Homo sapiens: one gene and its partners. The protein of the gene in region 4 interacts with the protein of the main gene of each other region in a pairwise test. Each region holds a gene or a part of one and is shown on either strand. Other genes may lie near its edges. The genes, in order: RAB5C, RAB5B, FMO3 and SGSM3.

The links.
Region 1: the proteins of SGSM3 (region 4) and RAB5C interact in a two-hybrid assay, tested with the Homo sapiens proteins (one study listed by BioGRID).
Region 2: the proteins of SGSM3 (region 4) and RAB5B interact in a two-hybrid assay, tested with the Homo sapiens proteins (one study listed by BioGRID).
Region 3: the proteins of SGSM3 (region 4) and FMO3 interact in binary tests that used the Homo sapiens proteins (3 or more experiments, as listed by UniProt).

What each region holds. Positions count from the first base shown.
Region 1 is NC_000017.11:42,144,960-42,151,995, forward strand, and holds part of RAB5C (ras-related protein Rab-5C), read right to left. Parts: intron 1-7,036. UniProt on the Homo sapiens protein: The small GTPases Rab are key regulators of intracellular membrane trafficking, from the formation of transport vesicles to their fusion with membranes.
Region 2 is NC_000012.12:55,984,049-55,991,084, reverse strand, and holds part of RAB5B (ras-related protein Rab-5B), read right to left. Parts: intron 4,217-7,036; coding exon of another isoform or gene 4,125-4,216; coding exon 3,962-4,124; intron 1,139-3,961; coding exon 987-1,138; intron 404-986; coding exon 281-403; intron 1-280. UniProt on the Homo sapiens protein: The small GTPases Rab are key regulators of intracellular membrane trafficking, from the formation of transport vesicles to their fusion with membranes.
Region 3 is NC_000001.11:171,107,905-171,114,940, reverse strand, and holds part of FMO3 (flavin-containing monooxygenase 3), read right to left. Parts: intron 6,863-7,036; coding exon 6,720-6,862; intron 4,144-6,719; coding exon 3,944-4,143; intron 935-3,943; coding exon 579-934; intron 1-578. UniProt on the Homo sapiens protein: Essential hepatic enzyme that catalyzes the oxygenation of a wide variety of nitrogen- and sulfur-containing compounds including drugs as well as dietary compounds.
Region 4 is NC_000022.11:40,373,594-40,380,593, forward strand, and holds part of SGSM3 (small G protein signaling modulator 3), read left to right. Parts: intron 1-7,000. UniProt on the Homo sapiens protein: May play a cooperative role in NF2-mediated growth suppression of cells.

The DNA of each region.
Region 1 (7,036 bases), on a different chromosome or scaffold from region 4:
AAAAAAAAAAAAAAAAAAAAAGAAACCCCATCTCTACTAAAAAAAATACAAAAAAATTAGCCGGGTGTGGTGGCGCGCGCCTATAGGCCTGTAGTCCCAGCTACTCGGGAGACTGAGGCAGGAGAAAGGCGTGAACCCGGGAGGCGGAGCTTGCAGTGAGCCGAGATTGCGCCACTGCACTCCAGCCTGGGCGATGGAGTGAGACTCCATCTCAAAAAAAACAGAAAAAGAAAAAATAATTTAGTAACTCATGTAGCTACTCCGCCCTCAACAAGGGGAACATGAACATAAGTCCCTGTTCCTTAGGTGTGGGCTACACAGTGACTTTCTTCCAAAGGGTGCATGCAGCATGGAAAGGGGAAGGGGAGAACAACTTTACAGAGAAGCCTCACACACATCACCTCAGCCAAGTGATCATGGTTGACATCAGTCATGGAAAGGCTTGTGGATTGTATGTACCCTTGACATGATGTGATGAAAATAGCACTTTACCTCTCTGGTCCTCCTTCCCAAAACTTGGCACAGTCTACTTATGAAAAAAACACTGGACACAGCCAGGCGTGTTAGCTCACGCATGTAATCCCACCACTTTGGGAAGCTGAGGTGAGCAGATCGCTTGAGCTCAGGAGTTTGAGACCAGCCTGGACATCATGGTGAAACCTTGTCTCTACAAAAATTAGCCAGGCGTGGTGGTGCATTTCTGTAGTCCCAGCTACTTGGGAGGCTGAGGAGAATGGCTTGAGCCGAGATTGCACCACTGCACTCCAGCCTGGCTGACAGAGCAAGACTCTGTTAAAAAGAGAAAAATACTGGACAAATCCCAGTTGAGAAGAGATTCTCTTTATTTTTTATTATTTTTTTTGAGACGGAGTCTCATTCTGTCTCCAGCCCAGGCTGGAGCACAGTGACACGATGTTGGCTCACTGCAACCTCTGCCTCCTGGTTCAAGCGATTCTTGTGCCTCAGCCTCCTGAGTAGCTGAGATTACAGGTGCGTACCACCATGCCTGGCTAATTTTTGTATTTTTAATAGAGATGAGGCTTCACCATGTTAGCCAGGCTGGTCTCGAACTCCTGACTTCAAGTGATCCACCCACCTCGGCCTCCCAAAGTGCTGGGATTACAGGCGTGAGTCACCGCGCCTGGCCGAGATCCTCTTTAGATGCTTGCCCAGCACTCCTCAAAACTGTCAAGGTCATCAAAAACAATAAAAGTCTGAGAAACTGGCACAGCAAGAGGAGCCTAAAGAGACAATGAATATAGGTAACATGGGATCCTGGAACAGCAAAAGGACATCAGGTAAAAATCTAAGGAAATCTGAATAAAGGATGGACTTTAATGTAAAATACGTACTAACATAAGATGTTAATAACAGGGAAAACTATGTGTGAGGGATTGTGAGAAAACTCTGTACTATCTGCGTAACTTTTCTAAAAGTATTCTGAAAGAATAAGTTTATTAAGCCTCGGCAACATAGGGAGACCCCGTCTCTACAAAAAAATCAAAAATTGCCCAGGCACAGTGGCTCACACCTGTAATCCCAGCACTTTCAGAGGCCAAGGCAGGCAGACCACAAAGTCAAGAGATCAAGACCATCCTGGCCAACATGGCGAAACCCCGTCTCTACTAAAAATATAAAAATTAGCTGGGCATGGTGGCGTACGCCTGTAGTCCCAGCTACTCGGGAGGCTGAGGCAGGAGAATCACTTGAACCCAGGAGACGGAGGTTGCAGTGAGCCAAGATGGCATCACTGCACTCCAGCCTGGGAAACAGAGCAAGACTCCATTTCAAAAGAAAAAAAAAAAAGGAGGCCAAGGTAGGCGGATCACGAGGTCAGGAGATGGAGACCATCCTGGTTAACATGGTGAAACTCTGCCTCTACTAAAAGTACAAAAAATTAGCCAAGCGTGGTGGCAGGAGCCTGTAGTCCCAGCTACTCGAGAGGCTGAGGCAGGAGAATGGCATGAACCCGGGAGCTTGCAGTGAGCCGAGATCGTACCACTGCACTCCAGCCTGGGCGACAAGGCAAGACTTCGTCAAGAAAGAAAGAAAGAAAGACAGAAAGAAAGACAGAAAGACAGAAAGAAAGACAGAAAAAGAAAGAAAGAAAGAAAAAGAAAGAAAGAAAGAAAGAAAGAAGGAAAGACAGAAAGAAAGAAAGAAACAGAAAGAAAGAAAGAAAGAAAGAGAGAGAGAGAGAGAGAGAGAGAGAAAGAAAGAAAGACCAGCCTCAAGGTGAGCAGAGGATATCCAAGTACTGCAGGCACAGGACCAGGGAATGTTAAAGACCCCATCTGTGGAATACACATGTGAGGGCTGCTCATACCACTGGTCTGAACAGCTGCTGCCACCACTTTTTTAAGCCACCTTCACTCAGGAACGAGCCTTGTGCAGACATACAGAACAGTATCCACAGGCAGAGTCAAATTTGCTTCCACTGATCCTTGCTAAGTACTGGTCTGGGGTCGGTGCTGCCTCACCACACACAACTGCAGAAGCACGGTCGTTCTGTCCTGCCATCAGATACACACACGGCAGAAGCCAGTCAGCCGGACTGTGGCTAGTCAGGGCCGCGCCCTCATTGTCCCATTAAACCCTTCACCAGAAATGGAGATTTGGAGAGTCTTAACTTCTGGAAACTGAGTTTGTGACTTGCTTCCCATCATCCGTACTGTAACATTGATCCTATTGACCTGTTTGCTCTCCCATTTGTCTGTGAGCAACTTTCTGGGGGATGGACCAAAGATATGGCTCAAGCTGTGGGATCAGATGGATTTAAGTTTGAATCATAGGTTCACGACATCCAAAGTGTGTGAAGAAAGGAAGGGAAGTGTGTGTTAAAAGAAGTGGGCGAGGGCCAGGCATGGTGGCTTACACCTGTAATCCCAGCACTTTGGGAGGCCGAGGCGGGTGGATCACCTGAGGTTGGGAGTTCGAGACCAGCCTGACCAACATGGAGAAACCCCATCTCTAATAAAAATACAAAAAATTAGCCGGCCGTGGTGGCACATGCCTGTAATCCCTGCTACTTGGGAAGCTGAGGCAGGAGAATCTCTTTAACTCGGGAGGCGGAGGTTGTGGTGAGCTGAGATTGTGCCATTGCACTCTAGCCTGGGCAACAAGAGCAAAACTCTGTCTCAAAAACAAACAAAAAAAAAGAAGTGGGCAAGGCTGGGCACAGTGGCTCATGCCTGTAGTCCCAGCACTGGGAGGCTGAGGCAGGCAGATCATGAGGTCAGGAGTTTGAGATCAGCCTGGCCAACATGGTGAAATCCGTCTCTACTAAAAATACAAAACTAGATGGGCGTGGTGGTACACACCTGTAATCCCAGGTACTAGGGAGGCTGAAGCAGGAGAATCACTTGAACCCAGGAGGCGGAGGTTACAGTGAGCAAGATCGTACCATTGCACTCCAGCCTGGGTGAGAGGTCAAGACTCCATCTCAAAAAAAAAAAAAAAAAAAAAAAGAAGTGGGCAGGTGTTTGGTGTTTGCTTTAAGGGCAGGTTTGAATGTCTGCCCTCTCCTTTAACAACTTCAGTAGGGAGCCTACTATGCTGAGTGCCATGCCAGGTCCTAAACACACAAAGATCAAACAGGACCCGATCTGTGCCCCTAAAGGGCTCACCCACCAGAGAATGAGGCAAATAAGGAACAATGAGATAGCAGTTGAGAAGACAGCCCATGTAGGAGACAAGCCCTCAGCCCATTTGGGGCAAGGGAAGGCTTCACAGAGGAAGTGGCATTCAAACTGAGCTTTGAGAGAAAAGTAGGGAGATACAGTTTCCAGGCACGTGAGGTGCAGAAGAGCCTTCTAGGCAAAGTGAACAGTAGGCATTTAGCCCAGAGATGGGTCAAGGAGAGGCTGTATTGAATAGCGATAAGAGCACACCCCATCTCTGCCATTACTACATAGTCCCCCACTCTAACATGGGGATTAAACACAGAACCTACCTCCTGGGGTTGTCGGAGGATTAAAGGAGTCAACACATAGGGCTCACAAGAGTGCCTGGCACATGGCAAAAATAGAAGTTTAGCTTTTATTTGTATTACTGTTCTTATACATAGAGGATGGGGCTATTTAATTGGAAAAGTAATCTCTTACAATACCAAGCTATTAATGCAGAGGATGCCAAAAATATTCCGATTCTCCTCTGCCAAGGTTTTTGCAAGCATGATTACCTGGATTTTGGCACATCCTAGTTTATAAATTCTACCTAAAGCAGTGCTTCTCAAACAGCCCCAACATATGTACCCTTCACTCAAGTCAGGGGAGAGGAAACTCCCAGAAATCTGGGAGTTGAACCCAAAGCAGCTGGCTACAAGCAAAATACTGTCTTTGGCCAGGTGCAGCGGCTCATGCCTGTAATCCCAGCACTTCGGGAGGCCAAAGTAGGAGGATCACTTGAGCCCAGGAGTTCTGAGACCAGCCTGGGCAACATGGCAAAACCCTGTCTCTACTAAAAATACAAAAACTAGCCGGGCATGGTGGTACATGCCTACAGTCCCAGCTACTCAGGAGGCTGAGGTGGGAGGATCACTTGGGTCCACAAGATCAAGGCGGAAGTAAGCCATGATCGTCCCACTGCACTCCAGCCTGGGTGAGAGAGGCCCTGTCTCAAAAATAAATAAATTAATTAATTAATTAAAGTTTCCTGTGTTAGCTTCAATTCATGCAAACTTTGCATTCTAATCTATAATAGTTACAGGACTGTTTTAATATTAAAACGCTTACAACTAAGTAAAACTGAAGTGGCACAGCGTTCTCTTCTGTAAAATGGGAATACAACCCACATCAATTCTGTTCAATGTCTACAAAATGAGACAATTTGTGAAACCATCAAGCAATGTACAAGGCATCCCAGCAGACATTTTGTTTTTGTTTTAGACATGGGGTCTCATTATGTTGCCCAGGCTGGTTTTTTTTTTTTTTTTTTTTGAGATAGACTCTTGGTCTGTTGCCCAGGCTGGAGTGCAGTGGTGCAATCTCGGCTCACTGCAACGTCCACCTCCCAGGTTGAACTGCCTCCCAGGTTCCTGCCTAAGCCTCCCAAGTAGCTGGGATTACAGGCATGTGCCACCACGCCTGACTAATTTTGGTATTTTTAGTAGAGATGGGGTTTCACCATGTTGGCCAGGCTGGTCTCGAACTCCTGACTTCAGGTGATCTCCCAGCCTCAGCCTTCCAAAGTGCTAGGATTATAGGCGTGATCCACCACACCTGGCCCCCAAGCTGGTCTTGAACTCCTGGGATCAAGCGATCCTCCCAAAGTGCTAGGATTATAGGCATGAGCCACTGTGCCCAGCCCCAGCATACATTTGGTACACATGTTGAATCAGAATCAGTGTTGAGGCTGGGCACAATTACCTGAGGTCAGGAGATCGAGACCAGCCTGGCCAACATAGAGGAACCCTGTCTCTACTAAAAGTACAAAAATTAGCTGGGCATGGTGGCACACGCCTATAATCCCAGCTACTCAGGAGGCTGAGGCAGGAGAATAGCTTGAGCCCGGGAGACAGAGGTTGCAGTGAGCCAAGATCACGCCATTGCACTCCAGCCTGGGAGACAAGAGTGAAACTCCATCTCAAAAAAAAAAAAAAAAAAAAAAAAAAAAATCAGCCAGACACGGTGGCTCATGCTTGTAATCCCAGCACTCTGGGAGGCCGATGAGGCGGGCAGATCACCTCACCTGAGGTCAGGAGTTTGAGACCAGCCTGGCCAACATGGTCAAACCCCATCTCTACAAAAATACCAAAAAAAAAAATTAGCCGGGCATGATGGCAGGTGCCTGTAATCCCAGCTACTCAGGAGGCTGAGGCAGGAGAATCGCTTGAACACAGGAGGCGGAGGTTGCAGTGAGCCTGGGCAACAGAATGAGAATGAGACTGCCTCAAAAAAAAAAAGAACCTTCAAACCCCTACCTACCCATCAGAGGCAACTGCTATTTTGTGGGCATCCAGTCTGCCAGCACTGGACTAGCTCCTTTCTTTGTTTCTAATTCTGCAAGGTATTTAGCATCCCCATTTTACCAGAAGAAACACAGGCTCAGTGAGGTCAAGTAACAAGCCCAGGGTCACACAACTGGTAAGTGGGGGAATCAGGATGAGAACTCAGGTCCAACTGCCTCTGAAGTTCTAGTGCCTTCCACCCGACCACACTGCCTGTTTACTGGGCAAGGGTTAGAAGTAGAAGGTCTGGCCAGGCGCAGTGGCTCACGCCTGTAATCCCAGCACTTTGGGAGGCCAGGGTGGGCGGATCACGAGGTCAGGAGATCGAGACCATCCTGGCTAACACGGCGGAACCCCATCTCTACTAAAAATACAAAACAATTAGCCGGACGTGGTGGTGGGCACCTGTAGTCCCAACTACTCTGGAGGCTGAGGTAGGAGAATGGCATGAACCCGGGAGGCGGAGCTTGCAGTGAGCCAAGATCGCACCACTGCACTCCAGCCTAGGCGACAGAGCGAGACTCCGACTCAAAAAAAAAAAAAGAAGTAGAAGGTCTAAGAAGTACTTGCTTGGTGGGGCTGAATTTAAATGTATGATCTTGCTCTGTTTCCATGTAAATTCTAGTGACAGGAGCTCCTGGTGGCAAGCCACATTCTTCCCACTTGCAAGCAGCAGGCAGCACCACAGGAGAAACAGAGGACTAACCAGAGGCCCGCTCTGTTGCTTCCCCCTTAACCCTGCCCAGTGGGACCCCTGAGTTTACTCACTTTAACTTTCATTTTCTAGCCATTAGGACTTTCAGGTTCCCAGAAAAATTAATGACATGTAGATGTCAGCAAACTCTCAGGCCCTGAAGAGTACTGACTTGGGACTCCTAACTGTTTTGGTCCTCAGAGGCAGAGGTGAAAGGGGTCAAGAGAGAAGACAGGAGGTCGGGTAGACGCTGGGGAAGACAAAAAAACAGAGGAGCGCTAGTGATGAGGAGGGCTAAAGAGTTAAGAGTCTGCCCTTGTGCCGTGGCGCACTCAGTCTGCATGTTCATTCATTTAACGAACAAACCAGGCCGAAGAAGGGCCCACTGTTAGATC
Region 2 (7,036 bases), on a different chromosome or scaffold from region 4:
CCTTACCACAAATTTAATTGCTCCCTCCTTCCTGTTTTCACACTGGTACCCCCACAGCTGGTACCTCCCTAACCCTCTGCTCTGGAGTTTTCTCCTGACTCCTTTGAAAATCTCCTGGCTGTCATTAGGGTCACAGTGTTGCTGTATTTAACTTGGTGTAGAACTGGGGAATGAGACAATGAATGTCCTCTGTTGACGTTTTCAGAGAGGGCTGGTTTGGAAAAAAAGAGGTCCCAGGAACAGAGGAAGTGTTAGAGAGGAACTCCACGGGCCACCTTACTTCATACTCCACCATACGTTTGTTGGCCAGGTCAGCTTTGTTCCCTGCCAGGGCAATAACGATGCTAGGACTGGCCTGTCGCTGTAGTTCCTTCACCCATGTCTTTGCTCGGGCAAAGGTTTCCTAGGAAAACATGAAGAGAATGAGTAGGCTGGAATGACTGCCAATCCATATCCATCACCTTTTAAAATGAGTCTCAAAATTCACCTCTTCTAGGTGGTCTTCCCTCAGTGAAACCACAGGTCTCTGATAATTCATTATCTGTCTTCTTAGCACTTGGAAGCATAATTTGTACTCTTATTTGCTATTTCAAGAACCCGTTTTCTGCCCCCTTACCCCCTGCCCCAAACTAACTCCTCTAAATATAAGCAAGGACAGTCTTTTTTCTTTTTTTTTTGAGGCGGAGTTTTGCTCTGTCGCCGAGGCTAGAGTGCAGTGGCTCGATCTCGGCTCACTGCAACCTCCGCCTCCTGGGTTCAAGCGATTCTCCTGCCTCAGCCTCCCGAGTAGCTGGGACTACAGGCGCGCACCACCACGCCCAACTAATTTTTGTAATTTTAGTAGAGACGGGGTTTCACCATGTTGGCCAGGATGGTCTCAATCTCTTGACCTCATGATCCTCCCGCCTTGGCATCCTAAAGTGTTGGGATTATAGGCGTAAGCCACCATGTCCAGCCAACAAGGACAGTCTTCTTAGCTCACTTACCTGATTAGTAATGTCGTAAACCACGATTGCAGCTTGGGCACCCCTGTAGTACATGGGGGCTAAGCTGTGATATCGCTCCTGCCCAGCTGTGTCCCAGATCTCAAACTTCACTGTTGTGTCATCTAGACAAACGGACTGGGTGAGGAAGGCCGCTATGGATGAGAGAATGGAGGGGAAGATGCTGTAAGTGGGAGGATGAATGGGAACATCCCTCCCCCCCTTCAAAATGTAACTGCCCTACACTAAGACCAGTCACCACCCAGGATAGTCAGCTACAGGAAAAGGTTTTGAGTTCTCCTTACATGTAAGTCTTGAAACCAGGATTAAGACTGCCCTTGGCTAAGTCCTTCCTGCCAGAAATGTCACTAGCTAAGGAATGGGGGTACATCATAAACTAAGAGGGACAGAAGAACTGGCACTTATACGAGTCATCCTTCTTCTAACCAAAATAGGAGAATAACAAATGACAGAGAAAATAGCTTCAGATAAAAGTCACATCAAGAATTAATTAGAAGATTGGGCTGGGCACGGTAGCTCACGCCTGTAATCCCAGCACTTTGGGAGGTGGGGGCTGAGGCAGGTGGATCACCTGAGGTCAGGAGTTCGAGACCAGTCTGGCCAACACGGCAAAACCCGTCTCTACTAAAAATACAAAAATTAGCCAGGCGTGGTGGTGGACACCTGTAATCACAGCTACTCGGGAGGCTGAGGCTGGAGAATCCCTTGAACTTGGGAGGTGGAGGTTGCAGTGAGCCAAGATGGCGCCACTGCACTTCAGCCTGGGCAACAAGAGCGGAACTCCGTCTCAAAAAACAAACAAACAAACGCAAACAAACAAAAGAATTAATTAGAGGATTGGCTGGGCGCAGTGGCTCATGCCTGTAATCCCAGCACTTTGGGAGGCCAAGGCAGGTGGATGGCTTGAGGTCAGGAGTTCGAGACCAGCCTGGCCAACATAGTGAAACCCCGCCTCTACTAAAAACACAAAAGTTAACCAGGCATGGTGATGGACGCCTGTAATTCCAGCTACTTGGGAGGCTGAGGCAGCAGAAGTGCTTGAACTGGGGAAGCGGAAGTTGCAATGGGCAACCACTGCACCACTGCACTCCAGCCTGGGCAACAGGGTGAGACTCAGTATCCAAAAAAAAAAAAAAAAAAAAAAAGAATTAATTAGAAGATTTTAAAGCTTGATGGCAAGTCCCATCATTATCAATATTATTTGGCTGTTACTTTTTCATATAATCTGCTGCAGGTCCAGGAATACATTTCCAAGATGACTAATAAAAAGGGGAAAGAGGCCAGGCACGGTGGCTCATGCTTGTAATCCCAGCACTTTGGGAGGCCGAGGCGGGTGGATCACTTGAAGTCAGGAGTTTGAGACCAGCCTGGCCAACACGGTGAAACCCTGTCTCTATACAAATACAAAAATTAGCCGGGCATGGTGGTATGTGCCTGTAATCTCCGCTGCTCAGGAGGCTGAGGCACGAGAATCACTTGAACCTGGGAGGCAGAAGTTGCAATGAGCCAAGATTGCACCACTGCACTCCAGTCTGGGCGACAGAGACTCCGTCTCAAAAATAAATAAATAAATAAATAAAAATAACAAGGGGAAGGAATAATTTGGAAGTTCTCATAAAAGATCCTTTATTGAATTAGCACCCTATTTTGGGGTAGTAGTGGGGAAAAGGTAGCAAAGATGAGAAAGACAGACACCCTTTGTATTTTGCATTAGTTCCAGCCTCTATTTTACCAGATTTTTTTTTGTTTTTGAAACAGTCTCGCTCCTTCGCCTAGGATAAAATGCACTGGCGTGATTTTGGCTCACTGCAACCTCCGCCTCATGAGTTCAAGCGAGTCTCCTGCCTCAGCTTCCCAAGTAGCTGGGATTACAGGCATGTGCCACCATGCCCGGCTAATCTTTGTTGTTGTTGTTGTTGTTTTGTTTTTTTGAGACGGATTTTCACTCTAGTCACCCAGGCTGGAGTGCAATGGCGCAATCTTGGCTCACTGCAACCTCCATCTCCTGGGTTCAAGTAGTTCTCCTACCTCAGCCTCCTGAGTAGCTGGAATTATAGGCATGTGCCACCACGCCCAGCTAATTTTTTGTATTTTTAGTAGAGACGGGGATTTCACCTTGTTGGCCAGGCTGGTCTTGAACTCCTGGCCTCAAGTGATCCGCCTGCCTTGGCCTCCCAAATGCTGGGATTACAGGTGTGACCCACCATGCCCAGCCTATTTTACCAGATTTTGATTTTTTTTTTTTTTTGGAGATGGAGTTTTGCTCTTGTCGCCCAGGGTGGAGTGCAGTGGCGCAATCTCGGCTCACTACAACCTCTGCCCCCTGGGTTCAAGTGATTCTCCTGCCTTAGCCTCCCGAGTAGCTGGGATTACAGGCGCCTGCCACCACGCCTGGCTAATTTTTTGTATTTTTAGTAGAGACAGGATTTCGCCATGTTGGGCAGGCTGGTCTCGAACTCCTGACCTCAGGTGATCCGCCCATCTTGGCCTCCCAAAGTGGTGGGCCACTGGGACCGGCCTCTGTTTTTATAAAGGGTTTCCATTTCTGGGGAAAAGAATGGGACTAAGAGGGCCAGCTCCATAATCAGGTCTTATATCTCTTTTCAAAAGCCTTACCGGCCCGGCGTGGTGACTCACGCCTGTAATCCCAGCACTTTGGGAGGCCGAGGCAGGCAGATCACCTGAGGTCAGGAGTTTGAGACCAACCTGGCCAACATGATGGTGAAACCCCCTCTCCACTAAAAATACAAAAATTAGACAGGTGCCACGGTGTGCACCTGTAATCCCAGTTACTCGGGAGGCTGAGGCATGAGAATCGCTCGAACCTGGGAGACAGAGGTTGCAGTAAGCCAAGATTGCGCCACTGCACTCCAGCCTGGGTAACAGAGCAAGACTCCATCTAAAAAAAAAAAAACCCTTACCAAACATTCAATCTCCTATTACCCCAAGGCACTCACCTCCAATGGTGCTCTCCTGGTACTCATGGAACTGCCCTTTGACAAAACGTAATACCAGGCTTGACTTTCCCACTGCAGATTCTCCCAGCAGGACCAATTTGAACTGGCAAATTTTGCTGGCCTGGGGTTGCCCATTGGGCCTAGCTGTGCTTCTGCTAGTCATGGCCAGATTATCAGAATGGGAAAGGGTGGAGGGAGGGGGATACTGTAAAGGGGGGAGGGGGAAGGGGAGGGGATTTCCAGGCTTCAACACTCCTGCAAGAAAAAAAAGTGAATAAAATTAAACATACGTCCATTGAAGCTGCAATCGCTTTTCAGAGAAGGATAGAACCTCTTCATCTCCTTGCTTCTATGAGGACTTAGCTCTGAGAAGGTCCCAGGCAGCTGATCCTCAGTGGTAAGAGTTGGGAAGAGCAAAATAAGAACTGCTTCTGGAGTCTGCCCTACCACATAATCTCTAACTGCCAAGGGAGCCGAAATAGAGAGACTGAAAACTGAGAGTTTTTAATTCCCCAGTAATTCCCCACCAGGTCTTCAAAGTTTTTTGTTTGAGTCACACAAAGTGATCAACCTTTAGCTGGCCTGAAGAATATCCAGATCCACCCACCGGTACCCTAGATCCCCAGTATCTCCTTGGCATCCTGGTGCTGTGCTCTTCTTTTCCTTTTCTTCTTTTTTTTTGAGACGTCACTCTTGTTGCCCAGGCTGGAGTGCAATGGCACAATCTTGGCTCACCACAACCTCTGCCTCCCGGGTTCAAGCAATTCTCCCACCTCAGTCTCCCGAGTAGCTGGGATTACAGGCATGCACCACCACGCCTGGCTAATTTTGTATTTTTAGTAGAGACGGAGTTTCTCCATGTTGGTCAGACTAGTCTAAGAAGTCCTGACCTCAGGTGATCTGCCCGCCTTGGCCTTCCAAAGTGCTGATATTACAGGCATGAGCCACCGTGCCTGGCCTTCTTTTCATTTTTCCTTAGCTCTTTGTCAAAATGAGAGATTCACTCTAGGGGTGTGGGATAAGAGTCACCACTCCTAAGGGCAGAAGGGTAGTTGCTGCTGTATCCTTTATATATGACCGGTCTCCCTGATAAGACATTTCTAAAGATCTAACCAGGGTCCCATTGCCACAAAATCTATCCTTTCTCATTTTTGGTTGAAGGTAAAGAGAGAAATACAACCAACAGATCACATTCATTATCAACTCTTTGTTTCATTAACAACTCTTTTTTCACTTTGTTTCTGCCATCTTTCCAAATCTGAAAGTCTATCAAGAATCAGTAAGCTTGACCTACTCTCAACTTGCAGCTGTCTTGCTGGTGCCTAGGGATTAGATTACCCTCCACACCAAAGGGGCCTAACAGCTGTAGCCCTCCAAATTAGAGGCAGAGAAAGGTATACCTTCTAAAGACATGCAGAAGTCTCCAGAGGATGGTATAGGGCGTTAAGTCTGCAAGCAATCAGTATTTGATGAAAGAATACACTGAATCAGCTCCTCTATCTTCTAAGAGGGCTAAGAAAGCTGCTGGTGGGGCAGGGAACAGAGAGAAGAGTTGGGACTTTGAGATTCTAATCGTCTAAATCTGAATACATTTCATCATCCTGACTCTGAGCGGAAAGGAACTATGAAATTCAAAGGGAAGTTAGCATAGGCAGAGCATGCAAAAACCTCTCTCCCAAACCTAAGCATTGCTTGAGAGTTGTACTTTGCTTGTTCAAATTACTCTTTCGCTTTTCCAAAGCAGATCCTAGTGACTTCACAGACATCATACTCTATGGCATATGTGGGGAAACATCATTATTTTGTCACCACAATTAGTGGGACTGGAGTTAAACTGGGGTTAAAAATTTTCAGTAACCCCACTTACTAGATCGTAAAGACAGAAAATCATACAGGAGGCAATTCAGAGGAATAAAGGCTCTGGAGTCCAATTCTCCACGTTTGTTTTTCAGCTCTACTTACTAGCTATGAACCTTGAGCAAGTCACTAAATATATGTGTGCATTCATTTCCTCATCTGTAAAATGAGATAATAGCCTTATAAGCACCTACTTCATAAGGGTGTTGTAAGGATTAAATGAGATAATGCATATAAATAACTAAAGTATTTTAAGTATTTGATAGATACTAAGTGCTAAATAAATATTAAGCTACTAATCATTACTAATATGATATAAAGAGAATTTCTCTACCTCTCTAAGCCTTACCTTCTACCTTTGTAAAATGGAAAAAATACCATCCTCATAGCTACAAATAATAAGTGAAAGATGTGTTTAGCATAGTGCTAATAGCTATTAAAATATATCTCAATATTAGTTGTTATCAATATATTCCTAAAAAGCAGCCACAGCCTGGGTGCAGTAGCTCATACCTATAATCCCAGCACTTTGGGAGGCTGAGGTGGATCACCTGAGGTCAGAAGTTCGAGCCCTGCCTGGCCAACATGGTGAAACCCCGTCTCCACTAAAAATACAAAAAAAATTAGCTGGGTGTGGTGGTGCATACCTGTAATCCCAGCTACTCCAGAGGCTGAGGCAGGAGAATCGCTTAAACCCAGAAGGTAGAGGGTGCACTGAGCTGATGCGCCACTGTGCTCCAGCCTGGGTGACAGAGCGAGACTCCGTCTCAAAAAATAAAAGGCGGGCACAGTGGCTCACGCCTGTAATCCCAGCACTTTGGGAGGCAAAGGCAGGCAGATCAGGAGGTCAGGAGTTTGAGACAAGCCTGGCAAACATGGTGAAACCCCGTCTCTACTAAAAATACAAAAATTAGCTGGGCGTGGTGGCGCGTGCCTGTAGTCCCAGCTACTTGGGAGGTTGAGGCAGGTGAACTGCTTGAACTTGTGAGGTGGAGGTTGCAGTGAGCTGAGATTGCACCACTGTACTCCAGCCTGGCGACAGAGCAACAGCGAGACTCAGTCTAAAAAAAAAAAAAAAAAATTAGCCGGGTGTGGTTGGTGGCCGGCATTTGTAATCCTACTCGGGAGGCTGAGGCAGAACTGCTTAAACCCGGGAGGCGGAGGTTGCAGTGAGCCGAGATCGTGCCACCACACTCCAGCCTGGGTAACAGAGCAAGA
Region 3 (7,036 bases), on a different chromosome or scaffold from region 4:
CTGATCATCTACTACACTGAGCACTTTCTGCCTCTATTGATCCACTGTTTGTTCTTAGCACTTTCTGCCTCTGTTGATCCACTGTTTGTCCTTTTTTTGTCAGGGAAGAAAATAATAGTAGAAAAGCCATTGCCTTCCAGCAATCATATTTTCCATGACTGTGGATATTTGAAGTTGGCTGGATGTTGGCTCGTAAACATATTTTCTTATGAACTTTTCAAGCAATGTAATTCTACTGAGTTTTGCAATCATAATTTTATAAAGTTGTCATTCACTTAGTCTTAAGTGGATGTGAGCTTTGGTGGTCTCAAGTCTAATAAATGATCTTGGGTAATTATCAGCTGTAAGAAGTTGTAGTCACAAAATGCCTCCTCTAATAATATCTTGTAGTATTTCATACAATAATCCAAACTGGTATACTTTAAATTGCTAACAAAATATAGCACTAAAGAATATAGAATTATAAATTTTCAAAACTGAAGGGGACCTTGTAACTAGGATTATTGTTTTCACAAAGATCCAAAGTTATTGTCACTGGCATTCATCTTCGCAATCCATGAGCCTCTTTATTGACTTACCCTTTATTACTTGTGCTGCCCAGCGGGACTGGAGGTCAACTGTGGGAATGGCAGCCCCAAGGGACTGGACAAAGCCAATCACTGCTATGGTTGACTTCTCAAGTAGAGGAGGAAATACTCCTTTAAATAAAATGATCTCATTGTTTCTGCTTTTGATGATAGACTCATCAAGGAAGGGGTAGGCAAAACTATACCCTGTTGCAAAGATTACACAGTCAATGCCCTCAAATATGGTCCCATCCTCAAAAATGGCCGAGGTCTCTGTGAATTCCTTCACGTTAGGCTTTACGGACACAATGCCACACAGAATGCTTGCTGGGAGCTCATCGTTAAATACAGGCTCTTTCCTCAGGACTCTGTATGGAAAACAGAGACAATTATTGGAAGTGTAATATTTCCCTCTTGTTTTATTGGTCCATATATAAATTGATAAGGAAGGAAAAAATGACCCAAGATTTTTTTTTTCTGAGGCATAGAGTATCTCCAATATGGCTGAAGAACAAAATTGATGGGAGGCAACATTGGGAAGTAAGAGAAGTTGTTATTTGCTGGCCCCATCTCTATTTTCTGTGATCCTTCTCTTCCATGGAGCTCTTTCCAAATCCCGGAATAAAGGCTTATGCCCAGTTCCCTGTTAAAGCCTGTTTCAGGAAAAACTCTGAAGTGAGGGTACCTCGGTGTTTACATTTTTAAAGTTGCTACTTATTCAGTGGGAACCTTGATGAGATTATGTTTTTTAAATTCTTGGTGTCTCATATTTCTCATCTGGAATGTCAGTAATGTTTGTACTACCTCAGAAGTTCCCTAAATGATATAAAGAGTTTTGCACAGTCTCTAGCATATGCATGGAGCTCGAAAATGTTAACTGTTATTCTTAATTCAGTATACTCCAAGATGGTCATCATACTGTGGAGAAGACCAAATAGGAGGAGGAAAGTCAAAGGTGTGAGAGCTGCAGCTGGGCTCTTGAGGGATGAAGTATGAGCCCCATGCAGACAGAGGCACCAATCAGGTGAAGGAGGGAGCACCCAGGAATTTAAATAAGGCCAGAGGGAGGGTGCCAGTTTGAGGCTTTGGCAACTGCAAGTCTGGAAAGAGAGAGCTTTGGACTACTTTTTATTCAATAATATCTGTAGTGGGAGCAGAGAAATCTGAACCCAGGGATGAATGTGAATACAGTTGAAGGAAAGAGTGTTGTTCTTGTATGGCTGTGGGAGCTGTGAGAGAGTGCTACAGGCAGATTCCACTGGAGAACAAACTCCATCACCACGCTGAAACTGCTCTTGTCAAGGCCATCAGAATCAGGCTCCCAGATCCAGTGGTCCACCCTCACTTTCCCTTTTACTCAACTTAGCATTTAACATAATTGATGGTTTCCTCTTTCTTGAAACACTGTATTCATTTTGTTTCCAGGTCATCACTCTCTCTCAGTTCCTTTCCTACTTTGCTGGCTATTCTTTTTCTGTCTCCCACAGATGTCTTCTCCTCTTCCTGACTTCTGACAATGGCATACCTCAGGACTCAGTCCCCAGACCTTTAGTCTCCTCCATTTACATGCATTCTTCAAGAGATGTCATCTAGTTCCATTTCTTCAGGAAAAATTTTCTCATGACTCCAGAGTTTTAACTTCTGGTTTGAGCCTCCCTCCTGTCTTGTGTTTCCCACTGCTGGCTCAACATTCTTCTACCAGAATGTCTAATAGGCATTCCAACTTTAATATGTCTAAAACTGAACTTCTGTTCCTCCTGCAGTTTTTCACATTTTAGTAAACGTCAATGTCATCCTTTTTCAAATATCTTGAAGACATTCTTACTCCCTCCTTGCTCTCTCATCCTCTATCCAGTCCACAGAAAATCCTATTTGGGTCGACCTTCAAGCTATCCAGAAATCTGCCCAATTCTGACCACTCACTGCTAACAATTTTGGTCCAGACCAACATCCCCTCTGATTCAGGTTTTTGAGAGTAGCTTTTTAACTGGTCCTTTCACTTCCTTCCTTGCCCTACCCTTACATTGAATGATGACCACAGCAGCCGATCAATCTCTGCAATGCTAATTTAGGTCTTGTAATTCATTTGCTCAGATGCCTGCTGTAGTTTCCCATTGCTTTCAGAGTAAAAGCCAGAGTCCTTACAATGATCTACAAGGCCCACGCCATCCAACAATTTTTATGTCTCTGGTTTTATCTCCTGGCATTCTCCCCTCATTCTCTTTTCTCAAGGAAGAGAAGCCCCATTGTTGTTTGTTGATCATGCCAGCCCTGCCCGTAAATGCCCTGGCTGTGTCCTCAGTCTGGAATACCCTTCCCCTGAGACCCTCATGGCTCATTCCCTCAACTCCTTCAGAGGTTTTCTTAAAAGTCTCCTCCCTGAGACATACTCTGAGGACTCTATTGGAAATTGTCCTGACAGCACTTGCCATTACCTTTATCTGCTTTGTTTTCTTCCCCAAAGCACACATCGCCATATGATCTTATGCTATTGTTTGTCTGTTTCCCACCACTTAGAATGTAGGTTCCATGAGGACAGGGATTTTTGCATGTTTTGTCCACTACTATATCCACAGGGCTAAACACAGGATGTGGCATATAATAAACGTGTAATAAATGTTTGTCAAATTAATGAATTCACTTTGATGAAAACAGCTCGTAACTTGGGTTTTTCACCTCTTGTCAAAGTCATTTCTTGTTATGTTACTGGCTTGGAGGACGTTATAGGAGAAGATGGGAAGGAGACTGAAGATGCAAGCATTGGTAAGTATGTGTTTAGTGAGAGGGGGTCCATTAAGGGGTGGGTGATGAAACGAAGAGGGAAAGGTAGGACATGAAACGTTCTCCTGATGTGCTTAACTTTGCCATTAAGTGACAGGTAGTAGAGCAAGTGGCCAAGACTGAGAGGCTCTAGAATCAGCAGATCTGGGTTTGTTTTGAACGCTGCTTCTACTTCCTGGCTGTGGGACCTTAGTAAAGTTATTAACTACACTGAAACGCAGTTATCTCATCTCTAAAATGGAGATACTAGTAGAGCTCTCTTCATAATTGTAAGGATAAAATGAAATAATATATGCCAGAGCCTTAGCAGAGTCTTGCTAAATCTCTGACATGTATAAAATGCTTAAAAGAGGTTAACTTTGATTATCATTACTCCCGGGACTAATTCCTGAGGCATTATATAATTTTCCAGCTGTGTAAATATAGTAAGGAGGATTGCAAAATAGGAAATCACTCTTAATTTGTGCAGTTCTTTATCTTCTGATATATGAGTTGTGATTGCTAATACTTTGATTTGTTTTGGGCTTACAGGACATTAAGGGTTGTTGACACTGAACTAAAAGCCAGCAGGCATATCACGTTTAGCTCTGCATTACCCATTTAAAGGCATCAAGCCATAGTTTTCATGCTTGAATCTTGCATTCATCTGCTTCACGTACAACCAGTCAGAGATGGCTGTCGGTAAATTGTTCTTGAGGAAGGTTCCAAATCGAGTGACGAGCAGCATGTCCCAAGGATAACCATTGTCCCAGACCCGGCTCATCACCCAGGAGCCACTTCTGGAACTGATCATGACCTTAAAAAACACCAATTCAACCATGAAATTAGTGACCATTTGTAGTGGATATTCTGGTGAGCACCCCAGATCCCTCTTGAGGAATGGATCTATTACCCCAGCTGCAGAAAGTGGTGTCAGAAGACATCTCTCAGCTGTCAGTCCTTTTTGACCATTGCTTTGGCTGAAGAGAGGGGCCTCACCCAACATCTTCTACTCTTTCTGAGTTTCCTCCATCTAGTGACTGGTCAATGCGGGCGTATAAAGGCCCAGTCCCTCACCTCAAATTGGGGCAATGCCAAAGGACCATCCCAGCTTCAAAGTAAATGGAAGCTTCCTTCCCTTCCTGTGGAAGTATTGATCCTGAGAGTGTTCCCAAATAAACGTCTGAACTTTACATCTACATCTTAGGGTCAGCCACCCTGTCACAGTGCTGCAGGCAAATTTTCATATTTTAATCAATCTCTGCTACAGGTGACTAATAACTGAATTCTAGTCACGTTTTCCCTAGCACTTATCTAACTATTGCTGTCTACAAATAAGCAATTATGATCTCAAAATAGGCATTTTAAAGCAAAATGCCTGCTACTATCTGGAAAGAAGGTGAGAAATTTGGAATCAGAAAACCATACGCTCAAACGCTGGCTCTCCTACTTATTAATGATGTGATTTGAAAAAATTCCTTTAACTTCTCTAATCTTGTTCCCTCATTCCTAAAATGGAGAGAATCGAATTTGCCTCATCAAATTTGTGTAAGCGTTAATTCGATGTGATAAACTATGTCACATGGCTAACGTTACCTGGCAGATAGTATGTGCTCAGTAAATGTCAGTTTCCTTTCCTTCCCCTTCTGTTATGCTAATCCATAATAGTGTAGTTTTCAGGCTTTCTTTGTCTTTTTTAAAACCAATTTTTATATGCCATATCACTTCAAGGCATTTGTTATAAGAGGAACTAGACAAGAAGAGACTAAAGGAGTCCGGGCATGGTGGCTCACGCCTATAATCCCAGAATTTTGGGAGGCCTAGGTGGGCAGATCATCTGAGGTCAGGAGTTCAAGACCAGCCTGGCCAATATGGTGAAACCCTGTCTCTACTAAAAATACAAAAAGTAGCTGGGTATGGGGTGTGGTGGTGGGTGCCTGTAATCCCAGCTACTCAGGAGGCTGAGATGGGAGAATTGCTTGAACCTGGGAGACGGAGGTTGCAGTGAGCCGAGATTGTGCCACTGCACTCCAGCCTGGGCAACAGAGTGAGACTCTGTCTCCAAAAAAAAAAAAAAAAAAAAAAAAAGAAGAGACTAAAGGATCAATTAATTAAATAGCCTCTGAAATTGATCTTCCCTTTAATTTATCACATATGCAAATAATCACATATACAAATAGAAATCTGTGAAAACTATGAGTTCATCATAAATTTCCTAAACCCAAGAAGCTGAAATAATGATTTACCTTTATTTACACAGAAATCTATTTTATCCTGTCATTCAAGTCCTTAAAATATGTGATATAATCTGATCCCAATCTTTCTTTCCTGTAACGCAATCCTATGACTACTGTTCCTTGGATTCGGAAGCTTTGGCTTTCAGTTCTGTAACCCTTCAGTGGCTCAAACATTAATTTTCTCAATGACTTTCAAGAAGACAATTGACATTTCTGGTCCTCATTTATCCTTTCTGTTATAAAACTACTTTCTTCCCACAAGCAAAGGAGCCCATTTACAGGAAGGTATTTGAGTACCATAATGCATCATACAAATTGTTAGCATTAAGAACCTCCATTCCAGCAAGATGAAACTATAACCTACAATAGTAAAATATACAATGCTCATTTTCTTGTCTTCTTGCCTCTGCTTGTGGCATTTCCAATTCTAAGAACAGCTTCTGTCGCCTCTTCAGTCTCATGATTTATATTTATTGTTCAAGGACTGGTTCTATTCTACCTCCTTTGTGAAGCATCCAGTTTTGGAATCATAGCATTTAGTGCCTGAATCACTTGTTTATCCTTTTTTTCCAGTGGCAGCTCTTGTTCCAGAGCAGGGATCATGCCTGTTATGTTCACCACTGTCTTCAGCACCCAACCCAGTGCCTGGCACATAGTAGGCCCTCAATAAGTAGTCATTGAATAAATGTGTGCCTGCATCATAAATGAATGAATAAATGAGCCACTCTGTATTGCTTAAGTCTTGTTCAAAAGCTTTAACTTTATAACAAGCCCAGAAGTAGGTTCTATTTTTATCTGTTTTACCATTGAGAAACCTGCCTCAGAGAGATTGAAGGACTTGCCCGAGTCTAAGAGTCATAACCTTCACCCTAAATCTGTGCTAGTTTTAGAGAAATTGATCCGAGATATTAGGCATCAAATGTCTTGAAGAAGGAGATTGTTGAATGACAGTTACTCCTTGCTGATGTTCTGCCTTTGTCTATGAAGTGATTTAAAACCTCACCTGTTACTTGGGGAAGCTCAGCTATGTGAAATACCACTTAGTCTTTACATCAGATACCCTTCCCTCCTCCCCCACATTTCATATCACACCTTTCAAACGATAATAACTCTTCTGTCAGTAACGAGAGTCACCCGAGTACCCGGGGAGTAGTACCTGTTCTGCTGTGCGGCTGAGTTCTGTGGCAATATCACAGCCCGAATTCCCCAGGCCAACCACCAGGACACGCTTTCCATTGAATACACCTGGTTCTTTATAGTCCCTGCTGTGGAAGCATTTGCCTTTAAAGTGGTTTAGTCCTGAGTGAAAAGTGAGAAATACATGGCAGTTTGAGTCATATATTTAAACAAAGACTTTAACAGAAGCGACCTTGTGAATAGATGCAGTCACAATAATGTGCTATTTTAACACACCAAGCATATTAGATATAACAGAAGTATATTTTAATTTAACCTGCTTATACTTTTAGAAAA
Region 4 (7,000 bases):
GATAGGGCAGTTGTGTTTTTTGTTTTTGTTTTTGTTTTTTTGAGACATAGTCTCACTCTGTCACCAGGCTAGAGTGCAGTGGGGCAATCTCGGCTCACTGCAATCTCTGCCTCCCGAGTTCAAGCAGTTCTCCTGCCTCAGCCTCCCGAGTAGCTGAGACTGCAGGCGTGCACCACCACACCCAGCTAATTTTTGTATTTTTAGTAGAGACGAGGTTTCACCATGTTGGCCAGGATGGTCTCCATCTCTTGACCTCGTGATCCGCCCTCCTAGGCCTTCCAAAGTGCTGGGATTACAGGCGTGAGCCACCACACCTGGCCTGATAGGGTGGTTTATTTATTTTTATTTTTATTTATTTTATTTATTTATTTTTGAGACGGAGTCTCCCTCTGTCGCCCAGGCTTGAGTGCAGTGGCGTGATCTCGGCTCACTGCAAGCTCTGCCTCCCGGGTTTATTTACGCCATTCTCCTGCCTCAGCCTCCTGAGTAGCTGGGACTACAGGCGCCTGCCACCATGCCCGGCTAATTTTTTGTATTTTTTTTAGTAGAGACGGGGCTTCACCGTGTTAGCCAGAATGGTCTTGATCTGACCTCGTGATCCGCCTGCCTCGGCCTCCCAAAGTGCTGGGATTACAGGTGTGAGCCACCGTGCCCAGCCAATAGGGCGGTTTTTATAGTTTGAGAGTTGGGGAAGGAACACTTTATTGTGAAGATGTCACTGGACTGCCACCAGAGAGAAAGCTTAAATTGGTCTAGACTGTAGTGTCAAGACTGCGTGCTTAGGTATATACTTTTAGGGAAAAGCTGTATCCACTGAGAGATGACATGGTTGAAAGATACAGTATAGGCTTTAGAGTCTGACAGATCTGGTAACTGAGCTACAATTTCTTCTTTGTAATACTTGCCTGCAATGTAAGCTCTATGAAAGTAGGGGCTTTGTGTTGTTCACCACCTCACCCCCATCTCCTAGAACAGTGGTAGGTGAGCAATAAATATCTGTTGAATGGGGCCCAGTACGGCGGCTCACGCCTGTAATCCCAGCACTTTGGGAGGCCAAGGTAGAGGATTGCTTGAGCCCAGGAGTTCAAGACTGGTCTGGGCAACATGGCGAAATGCCATCTCGACCAAAAACATAAAATTGCCAGTCATGGTGATGTGCGCCTGTGGTCCCAGCTACTCGGGAGGCTGAGGCAGGAGGATTGCTTGGGCTCAGCTCAGGAGGTCGAAGTTGCAGCCAGCCATGTTTGTACCACTGCACTCCAGCCTGGGGAAGAGAATGAGACCTTGCCTCAAACAAACACATTGTACCAGTACTATCAGTAGTAGCATATGACTGAAATAACAAGGCTAGATTTTCAGTGTGGCTTATGAACTGATTTTGACAGCACCATTGTTTGAATGCTACATATATAATCACCTCCCCTTTTTGAAAATTTAGGCTTACTAATTTATGCTCACCATTTATACATGAGGAGAGATACATTCACCTCTTTTCAGTAGGCACAGTTAACTATTAACTGTCTCTTCTAATATATGCCTCTTTTGCAGTGATAAACATATTTCTGCTTTTTCTAAGTGTGATACATGTTTTGTATTTGTTTTTCTCTCTACTAATGATGTAAATTGTTTTGGGAGGTTAACTGCTTTGGAATAATTAAACAGCTTTATCAACAAGAGTAACTGATATCAGAAATTAGATTGATAGGCCGGTTGTGGTGGCTCACGCCTGTAATCCCAGTGCTTTGGGAGGCCGAGGTAGGCGGATCACCTAAGGTCAGGAGTTTGAGACTAGCCTGGACAACATGGTAAAACCCTGCCTCTACTAAAAATACAAAAATTAGCTGGGTGTGGTGGCAGGCGCCTGTAATCCCAGCTATTCGGGAGGCTGAGGCAGGAGAATCACTTGAACCTGGGAGGCATAGGTTGCAGTGAGCCGAGATCATGTCATTGCACTCCAGCCTGGGTGACAAGAGTGAAACTCTGTCTCAAAAAAAAAAAAAGAGATTGACACCCCCAATTCAGTGTCAAAAGTCTTATCTTGGAAAGGGTATAATTTCCAATTAAGACAGAGAATTTTTTTTTTTTCACTACAACAAAATTATGTGACTTTTCTCACCCTTCTCTAGATATCTAATTAGCCTGCAAGCTAACACTCTAAAGACATGAAACAGGCTGGGCTTATGTCTGTAATCCCAGCACTTTGGGAGGCTGAGGTGGAAGGATCACTGAAGCCCAGGAGGTCAAGACCAGCCTGGGCAACATGGTGAGACCCTGCCTCTACAAAAAAATTTCTAAAAATTAACCAGATATGGTGGCGTGTGCTTGTGGTCCCACCTACTCAGGATGCTGAGGCAAGAGGATCACTTGAGCTCAGGAGATTGAAGCTGTAGTGAGCTGTGATCACACCACACACCACACACTCCAGCCTGGGTGACAAAGGGAGACCCTGTCTCAAAAAACTGGAAAAAAAAAAACAAGATATGAAAGAACAGATCATTTCCCTTTTCCCTCTCTTGTGTTTGAGTTTCGTTTGTAAATATCCTTAATTATGTGACTTGAGGATAGGGTTAAAGTCAAATTACCACTTTTTTTTTTTTTTTTTTTTTTTTTTTTTTTTGTCTTTTGGAAACAGTACGGTAGTCGGAGCACCAACAATGAAGTTCAACTTACGGCTCTGCTGCTTGCTTCCTTGCTTGTCTGCTTGCTTGATTGATTGACAGGGTTTTGCTCTGTTGCCCAGGTTGGAGTGCAGTGGCATGATCATAGCTCACTGAAACCTCAAACTCCTGGGCTCAAGAGGTCCTCCTGCTTTAATCTCATGAGTTGCTGTGATTACAGGTGCATGCCACTGCACCCGGCCTGGCTTTACCATTGTAAACTTCGAGAACTTACAAGTTATCTGTCATGCCTCATTTCTCTCACCTGCAAAAATGGAATAATTAGTGCTACTCATAGTAATAGCTAATATGTATTAGGTGTTTGCTATATATACCAGTCACAGTTCTAAGAATTTTATTTGTATTAACTCACAATCCTCACATCAACCCTATGTATTGCTAGTATTATGCCCATTTACAGGTGAGACAACAGTGACAGAAACAGTAATTTGCTAAAGATTGGTGGAGTCAGGATTAGAACTTAGTCTGACTCTAGAGTTTATGCTCATAATCTCCACCTTCATAGTTTTTTGTTTTTTTTAATTTAGCATATAATCAAGAAATAGAGTAGTTTTGAAGATTAAATAAAATCTATATAAAATGGCTGTGACAAGCATTTACGGTATTAAGTACTACAGTTAGCTTCGAGTTTACAAAGCATTTTGCACACATTTTCTTTGATTGTCATAGGAATAACCAAATATGCTTGTGACCATCACTGTCCGGCAGGAAACAGGCACACATTTGGTCACTTTCCCAGTCATGCAGCATGTGTGCAGACAGTGCCCTGGTGTTGCTCCTCCATATCTAGATCATGTGGAATTTGAAGCATCACATTTTGAGAAAATTTAGTAGACATAAGTTGTTTTGGCCTGTCCAGCATCCAATCCAGGTTCTTCTGGGGATAACAGCTCAATTTTGCTTTGGAGAACAGTTCATCCCTGACCAACTAGGTGGTAGGCACATGGCCCAGGTCAGGCCAACAGATGTTAGGCAAATAGATGCTTTCCTCCTTTAATTTGAATCTTAGGTTGAATGACACAGTAACAAAAGTTCAATAAACAGTTGCAGCTCCTTCATCACAACCACAGGCTAATTCCTAATATCTGGGCACTAGAGCTGCTGTTGTTTTCAACGAGCTGAGTCTTCAGCTTTTCCTTGGTTTTATGTCCTACTACATATCCTTCCAATACATTCCTGTCTTTCATAACTTAAGTTACCCAAAGTCAGTTTTGGTGGCTTGCAGCTGAGACACCTTTAACTTTTACATGGCATGAGGTCATGTCATGTAAGAGTTAAAATAGGCCTGGTGTCGTGGCTCACGCCTGTAATCCCAGCCCTCTGGGAGGCCAAGGCAGGCGGATCCATTGGGCTAAGGAGTTTGAGACCCGCCTGGGCAACATAATGGGAACCTGTCTCTACAAAAAAAAACTTTAAAAATTATAAATAGCTGGGCATGGTGGCATGTGCCTGTAGTCCCAGCTACTTGGGAGGCTGAGGTGGGAAGATTACTTGAGCTTGGGAGGTCAAGGCTGCAGTGAGCTGTGATCGTGCCACTGTACGCCAGCCTGGGTGACAGAGCAAGACCCTGTCTCAAAAAAAAAAAAAAAAAAGTTAAAATAATCAGCTAACTTTAACCTGAAGAGGAGAGAAATCTTGGAGAAGATGTGGGTATCTTCAAATGTCTGAAGTATGTAGAATACAAAGTACCCCTAAAAAGACCAAAGAGTAGATATTACTAGCAAACAGATTTCTGCCCACGTTAAAGCCTAAGGCAGGGCTATCCACAGGTGACAGACTGTCTTGGTATGTGGAAATAGATACATCCACTAAATTGTTCAAGCCAAGACAAGATGGTCACCTGGGAGGAGTAATATGGGTTTAGTAATCTAATGGGGACTGGGTGTGGTGGCTCATGCCTGTAATTCCACTGCTTTGGGAGGCTGAGGCAGGATGATCGCTTGAGGCCAAGAGTTTGAGACTACCCTGGGCAACATAGCAAGACCAGCATCTCTACAAAAAAATAAGAAAAATTAGCCAGGCATGATGGTGTGTGCCTGTAGTCCTAGCTACTTGGGAGACTGGGGTGAGAGGATTGAGCCCAACAGTTTGAGGTTATAGTGAGCTGGAATAGTGCCACTGCATTCCAGCCTGGGTGACACAGCAAGACCCTGTGTATATTAAAAATAATAATATGGCCGGGCACGGTGGCTGATGCCTGTCATCCTAGCACTTTGGGAGGCTAAGGCGGGCAGATCACTTGAAGGTGGGAGTTCGAGACCAACCTGGCCTACATGGCGAAACCCCATCTCTACTACCAAAAATACAAAAAATTAGCCGGGTGTGGTGGCGCATGCCTGTAATCCCATCTACCAGGAAGCTGAGGCAGAAGAGGAACCCAGGAGGCGGAGGTTGCAGTGAGCTGAGATCACACACTGCACTCCAGCCTGGGTGACAGAGCGAGACTCTGTCTCAAAAAAAAACAGAACAAAACCAATAATAATAATCTAATGGGTTGTTGTACTGAATGAACTGTAAAGTTCTCTCCAATTCTGAGATCGTGATTCTCTGATTGAAATCTAAATCTGCAGACTCCGAGACCTAGAGTTCTTTTTAGAAGATTTACCTGCTTTTCCTCACTTTTCCAACCTAGTCTCTTATATTCCCGCTTCACCACCTATGTGCTGCTCTTTGTTTCGGACCTCTGCTTCCATCAGCTCCTCACCTTCTTCAGGTGTTTGCTCAGATTTTTCTTACTGAGCCTTCCCTGACTACCTAATTTAGAATAGCAGCTCCTGAAAGTGCCTATGGTTCTTCCTGCCTCATTTTACTCTGTAGCACTATTCATCTGACATACAGTGTGGTCTCTTATTAATTTTTTAAGTTACTTCTTTCCCCTCTAGAATGCTGGGACTTTCAAAGAAGGGATTTCTATCTATTTTGAGCACTTCTGTGTTCCCGACACTTAAAACAGTGCCTGGTACATAATAGGCACTCAATAAACATATGTTGATTGAATGAGTATTTCCTCAACACAAAGTCACCATTGGGTCTGCTTTGTGTTCTAGGAGAATATCTAGCTCATGCTGTCCACTTCGTACCTTTTCTCTGTTGCTTCCCTTACTCGCTGGTGCCTTTCTCTTTTCCTCTTCTCTTTGGATCACAGCATTTCAAGACTAGAAGTCTGAGATCACCTCTTCATAAGGACCAGAGTCCCTGTGTAACACAGCTAGTTAATGAAAGATGTGGGGTGGAGGGTGACTGACTGTTGGATTGTTTATCTCTGTTAAACTGTGGTCTCCCTAAGTCTTGCTCAGTTCAGGCCCGTGCAGTGCCTGCTGCAGCATATGCATATCCCTCAGTGAGTTATTAAGTAAATATCTTCCTCCTTCATGAAGGCTTTTCCATATCAACCTGTAGTTATCTCTTTATTTCTTTGAACTTTGGTAGTATTTGTGGTCTCTGTTCTTATTATTAAGGCAGGGTCTCACTTTGTCACCCAGGCTGGAATGCAGTGGCACAATCTCCACTCACTGCAACCTCCACCTCCCAGGCCCAAGCAATCCTCCCACCTCAGCTTCCTGAGTAATCTGGGACTACAGATTTGCACCACCACGCCCAGCTAATTTTTGTATTTTTTTGTAGAGATTGGGTTTCGTCATGTTGCCCAGGGTGGTCTCAAACTCCTGGGCTCAAGTGATCCACCCTCCTCGGCCTCCTAAAGTGCTGGGATTATAGGTGTGAGCCATCGTGCTCGGCCTGGTTTCTCTTATTAACTGGCCTTGGGTTGTTTGCCATTTTATGTGTCTGTCTGGTCAATGAAATTATAATCCCATGGACAAAGACTAAATGTACCTACTACAGAACCTAGTCCTGAGAGGCAGTATAAAGTAGTGAAGTGCTGTCCAAGAGAACTTTATACAGTGCTGGAAATGTTCTTGTATGACTATTAACATTTTTTTAATGCTGTGTGTGTATTTGTATGTGTGTGTGATTAAGTAATTACACTTATCTGCACCACCCAGGAATAATCAGTAAACATTCTGGCATTTATTTCTTTATTCATCTATTAATTGTACATTTTCTAGCTTTTTTTAACCATGAATATCTATAATTTTTTTTTTTTTTTTTCCTGAGACAGGGTCTCACTCTGTCACCCAGGCTGGAGTGCAGTGGCACTATCTCAGCTCACTGTAACCTCCGCCTCCCGGGTTCAAGCAATTCTCCCACCTCAGCATCCCGAGTAGTTGGGATTAGAGGCATGCCCCATGACACCTGGCTAATTCTTGTATTTCTAATAGAGATGGGTTTTCACCATGTTGGCCAGGCTGGTCTCGAACTCC